2 separate regions of the Homo sapiens genome follow, and region 1 is linked to region 2. The links come from fine-mapping of genetic effects on gene expression. A gene starts in region 2. The other region holds a variant in brackets. All regions are shown on one strand. Distances are from middle to middle. Region 1 overlaps NECTIN2 (nectin cell adhesion molecule 2). Region 2 holds the start of NECTIN2 (nectin cell adhesion molecule 2).

Evidence for each region. PIP is the estimated chance that this variant, and not a neighbour inherited with it, causes the effect.
Region 1: its variant is the best candidate, but not a certain one, in a credible set for the expression of NECTIN2 in monocytes (Fairfax 2014, PIP 0.66).

Annotation. Positions count from the first base shown.
Region 1 is chr19:44,877,690-44,882,689 of GRCh38, forward strand. NECTIN2 (nectin cell adhesion molecule 2) reads left to right here. Exons shown (of 9, transcript NM_001042724.2): 6 at 4,522-4,675. Among named protein-coding and RNA genes, the nearest start is that of TOMM40, 11 kb to the right of the region's middle. RefSeq lists enhancers at 1,197-2,046, 2,047-2,896, 2,897-3,746. The variant C/T (reference allele first, on the strand shown) is at 2,884.
Region 2 is chr19:44,842,828-44,848,235 of GRCh38, forward strand. NECTIN2 (nectin cell adhesion molecule 2) reads left to right here and starts at 3,470. Exons shown (of 9, transcript NM_001042724.2): 1 at 3,470-3,786. The coding sequence starts at 3,699. RefSeq lists silencers at 1,834-2,233, 3,101-3,150, 3,231-3,310, 3,441-3,540 and an enhancer at 5,180-5,408.

The sequences.
Region 1 (5,000 bases), 35 kb after region 2:
CCCCAAGCTCATAGCTTTGTGAGGACCCCACAGCACATTCAGGGAGGGCTGCGAAGTCAGATGGCACCAGGGTCCTGGCCAGTGACCGGGCGGCCAGATCTATTGCATCCAAATAGCCAGCTTCCACTCGGCTACGGCGATCGCCAGACATGGGAGTTTGGTGTTGCTAGATCTGATTTGTCCCCCTAAGAGAAACCTGGATTTTTAAGTGAAATCGCCTGATTTTTGAAAGGTTGGCTAGCAATTTAAATTTTGCAAAACACTAACACCTGGGGACCACCGGTTGGCATCCCCCTCCTTGTACAAAGTGGTGCTCAGGCTGTAGCGAAGGGCGGAGGGGCTTCTGCTTCCCCACCCCCCTCCTCCTCCTCCTCCATTCTTCTGCCCAGAGTCACCCCCTCATTCTGGTCACTCCCGCTCCCTCCATCCCCGCCTATCCTGCATCTCCCCCACCCCCTCACTCCCCAGAGCGATCCTCGTGATCTTGTGTCTCCCTTTCTCTCTCTCTCACCCCTCCTTCTCTCTCTCCTCAGAAACCCCCAGGGCCTCGCCCCGAGATGTGGGCCCGCTGGTGTGGGGGGCCGTGGGGGGGACACTGCTGGTGCTGCTGCTTCTGGCTGGGGGGTCCTTGGCCTTCATCCTGCTGAGGGTGAGGAGGAGGAGGAAGAGCCCTGGAGGAGCAGGAGGAGGAGCCAGTGGCGACGGGGGATTCTACGATCCGAAAGCTCAGGTGTTGGGAAATGGGGACCCCGTCTTCTGGACACCAGTAGTCCCTGGTCCCATGGAACCAGATGGCAAGGATGAGGAGGAGGAGGAGGAGGAAGAGAAGGCAGAGAAAGGCCTCATGTTGCCTCCACCCCCAGCACTCGAGGATGACATGGAGTCCCAGCTGGACGGCTCCCTCATCTCACGGCGGGCAGTTTATGTGTGACCTGGACACAGACAGAGACAGAGCCAGGCCCGGCCCTCCCGCCCCCGACCTGACCACGCCGGCCTAGGGTTCCAGACTGGTTGGACTTGTTCGTCTGGACGACACTGGAGTGGAACACTGCCTCCCACTTTCTTGGGACTTGGAGGGAGGTGGAACAGCACACTGGACTTCTCCCGTCTCTAGGGCTGCATGGGGAGCCCGGGGAGCTGAGTAGTGGGGATCCAGAGAGGACCCCCGCCCCCAGAGACTTGGTTTTGGCTCCAGCCTTCCCCTGGCCCCGTGACACTCAGGAGTTAATAAATGCCTTGGAGGAAAACATCAGGGGTGTCTTGTAATACATCAGACCCCCTCCTTGCATGTTGGGGAAAGAGAGGGTGGGACAGGGACTCCTAGGTCCCAGGGCTGGGAAGAGCTGATCCACGCCCCCGGGGAACGAGAGCCTGGCAGGGGTTAGACTGGGGAAGGCTGTGGGGCTCGGACCACTTGGATCCTTGAAAGACGCATTGGATGGCCGAGAACCGCAAGGCTCGTGCAACTAGGATTCAGGTCACTGGATTGGGGACTCAGAGGCCTGGACATTTGGACTCCTGGGTCCCAGGACAGAGGCTGCCTTTCTGGATGGTGTGGCCAGACCCATCAGAGGCAGGAGTTCTCTGGACTCCTGGGCCCTCGGGTGGAGGTGGGGGTGGGGACAGCAGGGGCTCAGCCAGGTTCCCTGCGTCCTGAGAGAATGAGGCCAGAGGGCTGTGATCCAGTGGAGCCTCAGACCTCAACTCCCCCAGGTTGCTGGGGGTCTCGGGAGGGGAGGGCTGCTCCCCACTCCCATTCTTAGGGGCCCTGAGGGCATGGGGCAGGCGGGGGGTGCTGGGGAAGTCCCACCTCTGGCCACCCCGACTGTGGCTCCCCTCCTTCTCCATCCTTGCCCCCAGGGATCACCCCAGGGGACTTTTCAGTGGCTCCCTGGGAGTGGCGGCAGCTCCCTCCAGCTCCTCTCAACTGGAAAAGCAAAGACGGGGGGAGGGGCGGCCCTTGGTCCTTGAACTCCCAGGCTCAGTAAGGGACAGGTTTTTACCCGCGTCACCTCTGCTCTCCCAAGCCTCCATGCCTCCTCTGTAACACGGGGCAGGTGTTTCCATCGGCCTCACAAGGCTGTCGTGGGACCCAGTAAGGACATGCCCGTGATGCCCTCATGCAGCCTCATTGACCTCCACAGACCCCACCAAGCCCTGTGCCAGGCAGTGCTGGGGCTGCAGCTGTGGCCTGCACAGACCCAGTGCCGTCCTCCGGTGTGCACGGCCATAATGACCACAAGAATAGCAGCAGTATGTTTAGGATGAAGGTGTGTGTGTGGACCGAGGGGCAGTCTCTCTCTCTCACTCCCCCACCCTCTGAAGCCCTCCAGAGGATGCCAGGCTGTGGAACGGGAGCAGTGGAGATCCAACAGTCCAGCGTCCTCTGGAAGCTTCCTCCTCATCTGGAGAGTGAGGCCGATGCATGCGTGACCCCCACGGGCCCTTCCATACTTGTTACTTCCTCTGGTTGTTTGTTGTCTGTACTCACCCACCCACCCCACCCGGACAACCGGAGGGCAGGGGCGGGGAATTGGGTCCGCCTGGCACACAGTGGATCCTTCAGTGCCATGCTGAGTCCTCCTTACACACCCAGCAAACACCTACTGTGTGCCGAACCTCAGGCACACAGTCTAGTATGGAAATTGGCAAGTAAACGGGTAACCACTCCAAAAACTCTTCCATTAGGAAAGACTTGAGAAATGGAAACGGGAGGTGCTAGCAAGGAAGGAGAGGCCCAGGAGCAAACAGGCTTCTCGCTTCTCGACCCCTTTTCCTGTCTTGCCTTTTTTTTTTTTTTTTTTTTTTTTTTTTTTGAGACGGTGTCTAGCTCTGTTACCCAGGCTGGAGTGCAGTGGTACGATCTCGGCTCACTGCACCCTC[C/T]ACCTCCCAAGTTCAAGCAATTCTCCTGTCTCAGCCTCTTGAGTAACGCACCCAGCCTTTTTTTTTTTAAGAAGTGGGGTGGTCTCCCTATATTACCCAGATTGGGCTCAAACTCCTGGGCTCAAGCGATCGATCCTCCCACTTCAGCCTCCAAAAGTGCTGGGATGACAGGTGTGAGTCACTGTGCCTGGCCCCTGGCTAATTTTTTTTTTTTTTTTTTAAGACGGAGTTTCACTCTTATCCAGGCTGGAGTGCAATGGCGCGATCTTGGCTCACGGCAACCTCCGCTTCCCAGGTTCAAGCAATTCTCCTGCCTCAGCCTCCTGAGTAGCTGGGATTACAGGCGCGCGCTAGCATGCCCAGCTAACATTTTGTATTTTTAGTAGAGACAGGGTTTCTCCATGTTGGTCAGGCTGGTCTCAAACTCCCAACCTCAGGTAATCCACCTGCCTCGGCCTCCCAAAGTGCTGGGATTACAGGCGTGAGCCAACGCGCCCGGCTAGCCCCCGGCTAATTTTTAAAATTTTTTCTAGAGATGAGGTCTTGTGCTCGTTGCCCTGGCTGGTCTTGAACAATCCGCCCGCCTCGCCCTCCCAAAGCGCTGGGATTACAGGCGTCAGTCACTGCCCCAAGCCCTAACCCCCTTCCTGATAAGTGGAAGGAGATTCTAGTCCCCAGAGGTGATTCTGGATCCCAGAATTCTGTCCCCGCATTCTCTGTCTTCTAGCCGCCCCTGGTCCTGTCTCCTCTCCTCTCATCTTCCCACTCTGCCCCGCCTCATTCTGCCCCAGCTACACAGTCTACTTGCTGTTCTTTAAAAACAATACAAGGCAGGCCGAGCACGGCATAATCCCAGAACGTTGGGAGGCCGAGGCGGGAGGATCACTTGAGCCCAGGAGTTCAAGACCAGCCTGGGCAACATGGCAAAACCCCATCTCTACAAAAAAATTCAAAAAAAAAAAAAAAAAGCTGGGCCTGGCGGCACATGCCTGTAGTTCCAGCCACTCCGGAGGGTGAGGTGGGAGGATCGCTTGAGCCCAGGAGATTGGGGCTACAGTTGGTGGTGATCATGCCACTGCACTCTAGCCTGGGTGACAAAGCGAGACCGTCTCAAAAAAAACCATAGAGCCCCACAAGCCTCCTGCAGGGCCGCTGGCTGTTTGCGCTGCCTGCGATACCCCCAGACACTCTCATGACTCATCCCCGGTGTCTCTTTCAGGCCCTTGCTCAGTTGTCACCTTACAGTAAGGTAGAGGCCCTCCCACTACCTTCGGGGACCCCACTTTGCACCTCCTATCACTTCCGCACTGTATATTTTTGTATCCCCCGTGACTTACTCCCATCTGGCATGTGAGCTATTGTACTGGTTTGCTTACTGTTGTTCTCCCTGCCCAACCAGAATCAAAGTTCCATGAAGGTAGACACTTTGTATGTTTTGTTCTCCACTCATCTCCCATGCGGGGCACACATCCTCGCTCCTTCCTCATGCTCAGCAGTTTGAGTTGAATGAAAGAATGTCCCCTGCCCATGGGAGAGGACATAGACAGGCAGGCGATGATGTGGGGTGGGATGGTCGCTTGGAATAAGGAGCTGTGGCTTCCTCCTGGAGACCCCCTCACGCTGTCCCTCTCCTTGCAGAGACCCCCAACACAGCAGGCGCAGGGGCCACAGGCGGCATCATCGGGGGCATCATCGCCGCCATCATTGCTACTGCTGTGGCTGCCACGGGCATCCTTATCTGCCGGCAGCAGCGGAAGGAGCAGACGCTGCAGGGGGCAGAGGAGGACGAAGAGTAAGTGATGGGCCCTGAGACGGGGATGGGAGAGGGGTCGAAGAACTGAGGAGTATGGGGTAGGGGTGAGGGTGGGAGAAAATTCTCCATAATGGCTGTGTGAAACAGACAGACCTAAAGGAACTGGGGTCTAAATGGAGTAGGGAGGTATGGGTTTCTCTCTGCTATAAAGTATGGCATTGAATTTAAAAATTAGCTGGGGGCCAGGCACAGTGGCTTACACCTGCCATCCCAGCACTTTTGGAGGCTGAGGTGGGGAGATCGATCGTTTGAGCCCAGGAATTTGAGCCCAGTCTGGGTAACATAGGAAGACTACCCCCATCTA
Region 2 (5,408 bases):
CCAGGCGTGTCTTGAACCCCTAAATTCAAGTGATCTGCCAGCCTTGGCCTCCCAAAGTGCTGGGATTGCAGACATGAGCCACTGCGCAAGGCCTATTTGTGTATTTATTTATTTTAGAGACAAAATCTCTCTGTCTCCCAGGCTGGAGTGCAGTGGCTCAATCACAGCTCACTGCAGCCTCAACCTCCCTGGGCTCAGGTGATCCTCCCACCTCGGCCTCCCGAGTAGCTGTAGCTGCTATGCATTTATTATGTGTGCGCCTATTTGTCCAGCCATCCTCACACCCAGTTTGTGCCAAGCCTGAGACACAAGCTATCTGGAGCTCACATGGCATGGAGGTTAAAAGCACAGACTGGCCGGGTGCAGTAGCTCACCCCTGTAATCCCAGCACTTTGGGAGGCTAATGCAGGCAGATCACAAGGTCAGGAGTTCGAGACCAGCCTGACCAACATGGTGAAAGCCCGTCACTACTAAAAATACAAAAATTAGCCGGGCGTGGTGGTGCGTGCCTGTAATCCCAGCTACTCAGGAGGCTGAGGCAGGAGAATCACTCAAACCTGGGGGGCGGAGGTTGCAGCGAGCCGAGATTGATTGCGCCACTGCACTCCAGCCTTGGCAACAGAGCCAGACTCCGTCTCAAAAACAAAAAGAGCACAGACCATCCGGGCCCAAAAGAAGCACCCGGCCTGCTATGTGTCTTTGCTGGGTGGCTTGGGGCAAACAACCACCCTGTGCCTCAGTTTACTTTTCAGTGAAATGGGGATCACCATGGTGTCCCCTTCATGGGATCCCTGTGAGGAACTAACTAAGAGAAATAAGGTGCTTAGAAGAGTCAGCTCTGGCTCTGCCATTTTGTTTATTTTTATTTATTTTTAATTTCTATTTTATTTTATGTTTTTCAGACTGAGTCTCACTCTGTTGCCCAGGCTGGAGTGCAGTGGTGCGATCTCGGCTCACTGCAACCTCCAACTCCCGGGTTCAAGCGATTCTCCTGCCTCAGCCTCCCAAGTAGAGACAGGGTTTCACCATGTCGGCCAGGCTGGTCTCGAACTCCTGAACTCAAGTGATCCACCCGCCTCAGCCTCCCAAAGTGCTGGGATTACAGGCGTCAGCCAGGGCGCCCCGCCCTGGCTCTGCCATTTTGTAACTCAGTGAGTCACTTCATCTCTCTGCTTCAGTTTCCCTATCGCCCATGGCGCTGCATGGCTTACATGAGATAATATTCGCAGTGCACTTAGATCAGTGCCTGGCACACGGTAAGTGCTGACTACATGTATTAACAGTATCGTAAGTGCCGGGCGCGGTGGCTCACACCTGCAATCCCAGCATTTTGGGAGGCTGAAGCGGGTGGATCAGGAGGTCAGGAGTTTGAGACCAGCCTGACCAACATGGTGAAACCCCGTCTCTACTAAAAATACAAAAATTAGCCGGGCGTGGTGGCGCGCGCCTGTAATCCCAGCTACTCAGGAGGCTGACTCAGGAGAATCGCTTGAACCCAGGAGGCAGAGGTTGCAGTGAGCCGAGATCGCGCCACTGCCCTCCAGCCTGGGCGACAGAGCGAGACTCCGTCTCAAAGAAAAAAAAAAAAAAAGGATCATAACTAAGACTCGAATGCGGAGGGATAACAGCCTCTGCTACTTGAAACCTAGTCCTTCTGGGGAGGAAAGCCCAGGTGTGTGGCAGGTGGAAGGGAGGGCGAGCCTAGGTGGTCCTCTTGCTAGGGCAAGAAGCCCCCAAGCACCTGCCCCCAGCTGAGCAGCTCCGCGCCTCCTGGCCCTGGACGAACTTGGGCCCAGACTGGCGCTCCGTGGCACCCCCTCCCCCGGCCTCCCGCTTCGCGCCCTCATCCCGCCCCCCGGCGCGGCCTCACCAGCTCCCCCTGGGCAGCCCAAAGAATGCGAAGAGGTAGGTGGGGGTAGGGAGGAGGGCGAGCCGCTGGGAGAGACAAAGGGCCCGAGTCTGAGCGAGAGACACAAAGACGCGAGGAGGCTGGGGAGATAGGGGAAGTGGGACAAGGACGCGGGGAGTGACCAGGTCCGGAGGCCGGACTGGAGCCCAGCCCCACCCAGCCCGGCCGGGCCAGCGCAGCGCGGGGGCCGGTCTCTGCTGCCCCCTGGCGGGTGGCTGCGGTGAGAAGGCGGCGCGGAGCAGGTGTTGGGAGGGGAGGACCAGGGCGCGCAGGGAGGTAGGGAGGGAAGGAAGCAGAGAACAGAGCAGGGACAGAGAGACAGCGAGAGAGACTCGCACGCAGAGACAAGAGACGCCGAGAGGGAGACACAGAGAAAGAGACAGGGACAGAGAGACACAGATAGAGACAGAGAGAGACACACGGAGAGACAGAGACAGAGAAGCACAGAGATAGAGAGGCACAGAGATAGAGACAGAGAAACACAGAGACAGAGAGGCACACAGAGACAGAGAGGCACAGAGACAGGCCGATAGAGACAGAGATACACAGAAATAGAGACAGAGACAGAGAGGCACACAGATAGAGACAGAGAGACACAGAGACAGAGTCAAAGGATGGAAAGAGACATGGGGACCAAGTGACCCAGAAACAGTGACAGACAGGCCGGGCTTGGTGGCTCACGCCTGTAATCCCAGCATCTTGGGAGGCCGAGCCGGGAGGATCGCTTGAGGCCAGCCTCAGCAACATAGTGAGACCCCGCCGCCCCCCCGCCCCGTCTCTTTTATTGAAATAAAGAAACAGTGACTGACAAAGGAAGACCAGAAACAGAGCGACACCGAAGCATGAGGACGGAAAGACCCAGAGAGGCAGAAATACAGGGACAGAGAGGAAGACCCAAAGAGAGTGAGAGAGACACAAAGACACGTAAGAGAGACAGAGAAATCCAGAAAGAAACGAGTGCAGCGACACCTAGAGTTCGGGGCAGAGATTAGAAACGCACGAGGGTACGAGAAACAGGCTCAGGGCGATGGGCTCGACCTGCGGGGAGGTCGCACAACCGGGACGTGCTGGGGGCAGAACCGTAAAGCCCCACGTGCCTCAGGCAACTGTGATGAGAGGACCCGGGCAGGCAGGAAAGGGCAGGATTCGAACTGTGGGTGGGACAGAGGCCAGGACGGACTGAGCTAAGAGACCGAGAGAACTCCGGCTAGGGCGAGGGGCGGGGCTGGTGGAGGCGGGGCTGGTGGGGGCGGAGTCGGCCGGAAGGGCCGAAAGGGGCGTGGCAAGACCTTGGCGAGGCGGCCGGTAGGCAGGGGGCGGGGCGTGGGAACTACTCGGGAGCAGAGGGGGCGTGGCTAGACCTTAGGGGGCGTGGTTTAACGCCGGGAGCGAAGGAGACAGAATTCTTTGGCAGGGGCGACCTTAGAATCCTGGGGAGGAGCGAGAATGGAATCCCGGGGAGGAACAGGGGTGGAATCCGGGGGGCGGGGTCAGAACGCCAGGAGGGGGCGGGGCCGGAGCCAGGGTCGGCTTGACTCGGGGGAGCAGCGGGTGGATCCTGTGACGTCAGCGGGTTCGAACCGCCGGAGCTGAGCGAGAGGCCGGGGGTGCCGAGCCGGGCGGGGAGAGCTGGGCCGGGAGAGCAGAACAGGGAGGCTAGAGCGCAGCGGGAACCGGCCCGGAGCCGGAGCCGGAGCCCCACAGGCACCTACTAAACCGCCCAGCCGATCGGCCCCCACAGAGTGGCCCGCGGGCCTCCGGCCGGGCCCAGTCCCCTCCCGGGCCCTCCATGGCCCGGGCCGCTGCCCTCCTGCCGTCGAGATCGCCGCCGACGCCGCTGCTGTGGCCGCTGCTGCTGCTGCTGCTCCTGGAAACCGGTGAGACGAGCGGACGGCCCCCTGCCCTCGCGCGGACCCCCTCCAACCTTACCTTCCGAGCTGGGGAAGCCGAGCACCTTCCCCGCCCACCCCCGGCTCCCCGAGCCCCCTCTCGCGTGCCCCCTTCCTGGCTGGCCCCACAGACTCCGACCCCCTACACGTCCGATTCTCTCGAGGAGACTCTGACCCCTCCTTTCTGCATCTCTCTCACCACCACCCCCATCCTTCTTAATCCAATTGCCCATCCTACGCCTGCTTGTCTGTCCCCCTCCCCATTTCTCGGATTCCCGCGCCGAAAGGGTTAAATCCCAGGAAGGCCTGGTGCCCCCTCCCCACCCCGCGCCGAGTAGTTCACCCGGATCTGGGTCTCTGTCTCCTCTACCCCTCTCAGGAATGTGGGGAATGTTCCCCCCACCTACCGCAGTAAGGTCTCGAGGAAGAGGCGAGACCACCTCCCTCCCCTATTTTTCCTTCTTCCCGGCTTGGGCGTCTGAGGCCCGGAGAGAACTGAGGACAAGCGGACCTGATTCGGGTCCCTTGGAGGGCTAAGGATAAGAGTTCTGGCGACTTAGGGGGAAGGGCCTGAGCTCGGAGCTCCAACCCCGAACCTCAGGGAGTTGGGGGTTCTGACTCCGTGGACTCCAGAAAAATTAGGGGCCGGGGGCTCCGTCTTCAGGGTCCCTGGTAGAATGGAGGCTAGGCGCTAAGTCTAACTGGGATCTAGGTAAAACTGGGGGCGAGAGAGGATCAAACTTGTAGCTTCTGGATTTAATTGTGGGCAGGGGGCTTCGTTTTCAGGGTTCCCGGCAGAACCGGGGGACAGGAGACTCGATCTCGTGGGCTTCAGACTTAATTGTAGGCAGAGGAACGTCTTCTGAGATCCAAACAGAAGTGCGAGCAGCGGGCCCCGTCTCTTGGGCTCCAGATATGATCAAGGGTCGAAGGCTCTGTCTTGAGGCTGGAGTCTCAGTCGCCTGAGTCCCAGATAGAACGGGAGGCCCCGAGTCCCAGAGGCTGGGAGACTCCTCCCTTTCCCTATGAATGGTCGGGGGCGACGGAGACGTCGCCGGGGAAGTTTTCCTGGTTTCACTCTCGCCGAGCCAGGGAGGGGCGGGGCGGGCGCTCCTGGCTCCGGGTTCCGGACTCCCCGGTTTCGGGACCTTATCTATCCTCTGGTAGCGCCTTTGTCCTCAGAGCCATAGCAGGAGGTGGACGAGTGGAGCCGCCGCCCTTATCCCCCGTCCCTCCCATTGCTATGCCTTGGACCCCCTGGCGTCCTTCCATCCACCCCACTAGGGGAGGAGAGCGGCCCCCCTGGGGAGGGAGGGGCTGGGAGGGAACCCTTGAAAGAGGCGCTGGCCCCGCCCCTTGCAGGTGACCCGGTTGTGTATTCCCAGCGACAAACTCTGGGATGCTAGAGTTTCCCGAGGGTTTGCGCAGAAGAGAGCTCAGGGGGATCTTGGGGGAACCCCGGCCACCTCTCTGGCCTCATTTCCCCCAGGATGGCTCTCACTGGCCTCCCAGCTTTGACCCAGAGCTGGGAACTCCGCTTCCATCCCCTGCCTCTCCCTTCAGGCAGAAATAGGCAGATGAGATCAGAACTGGCACCTCTGGGTGAATTC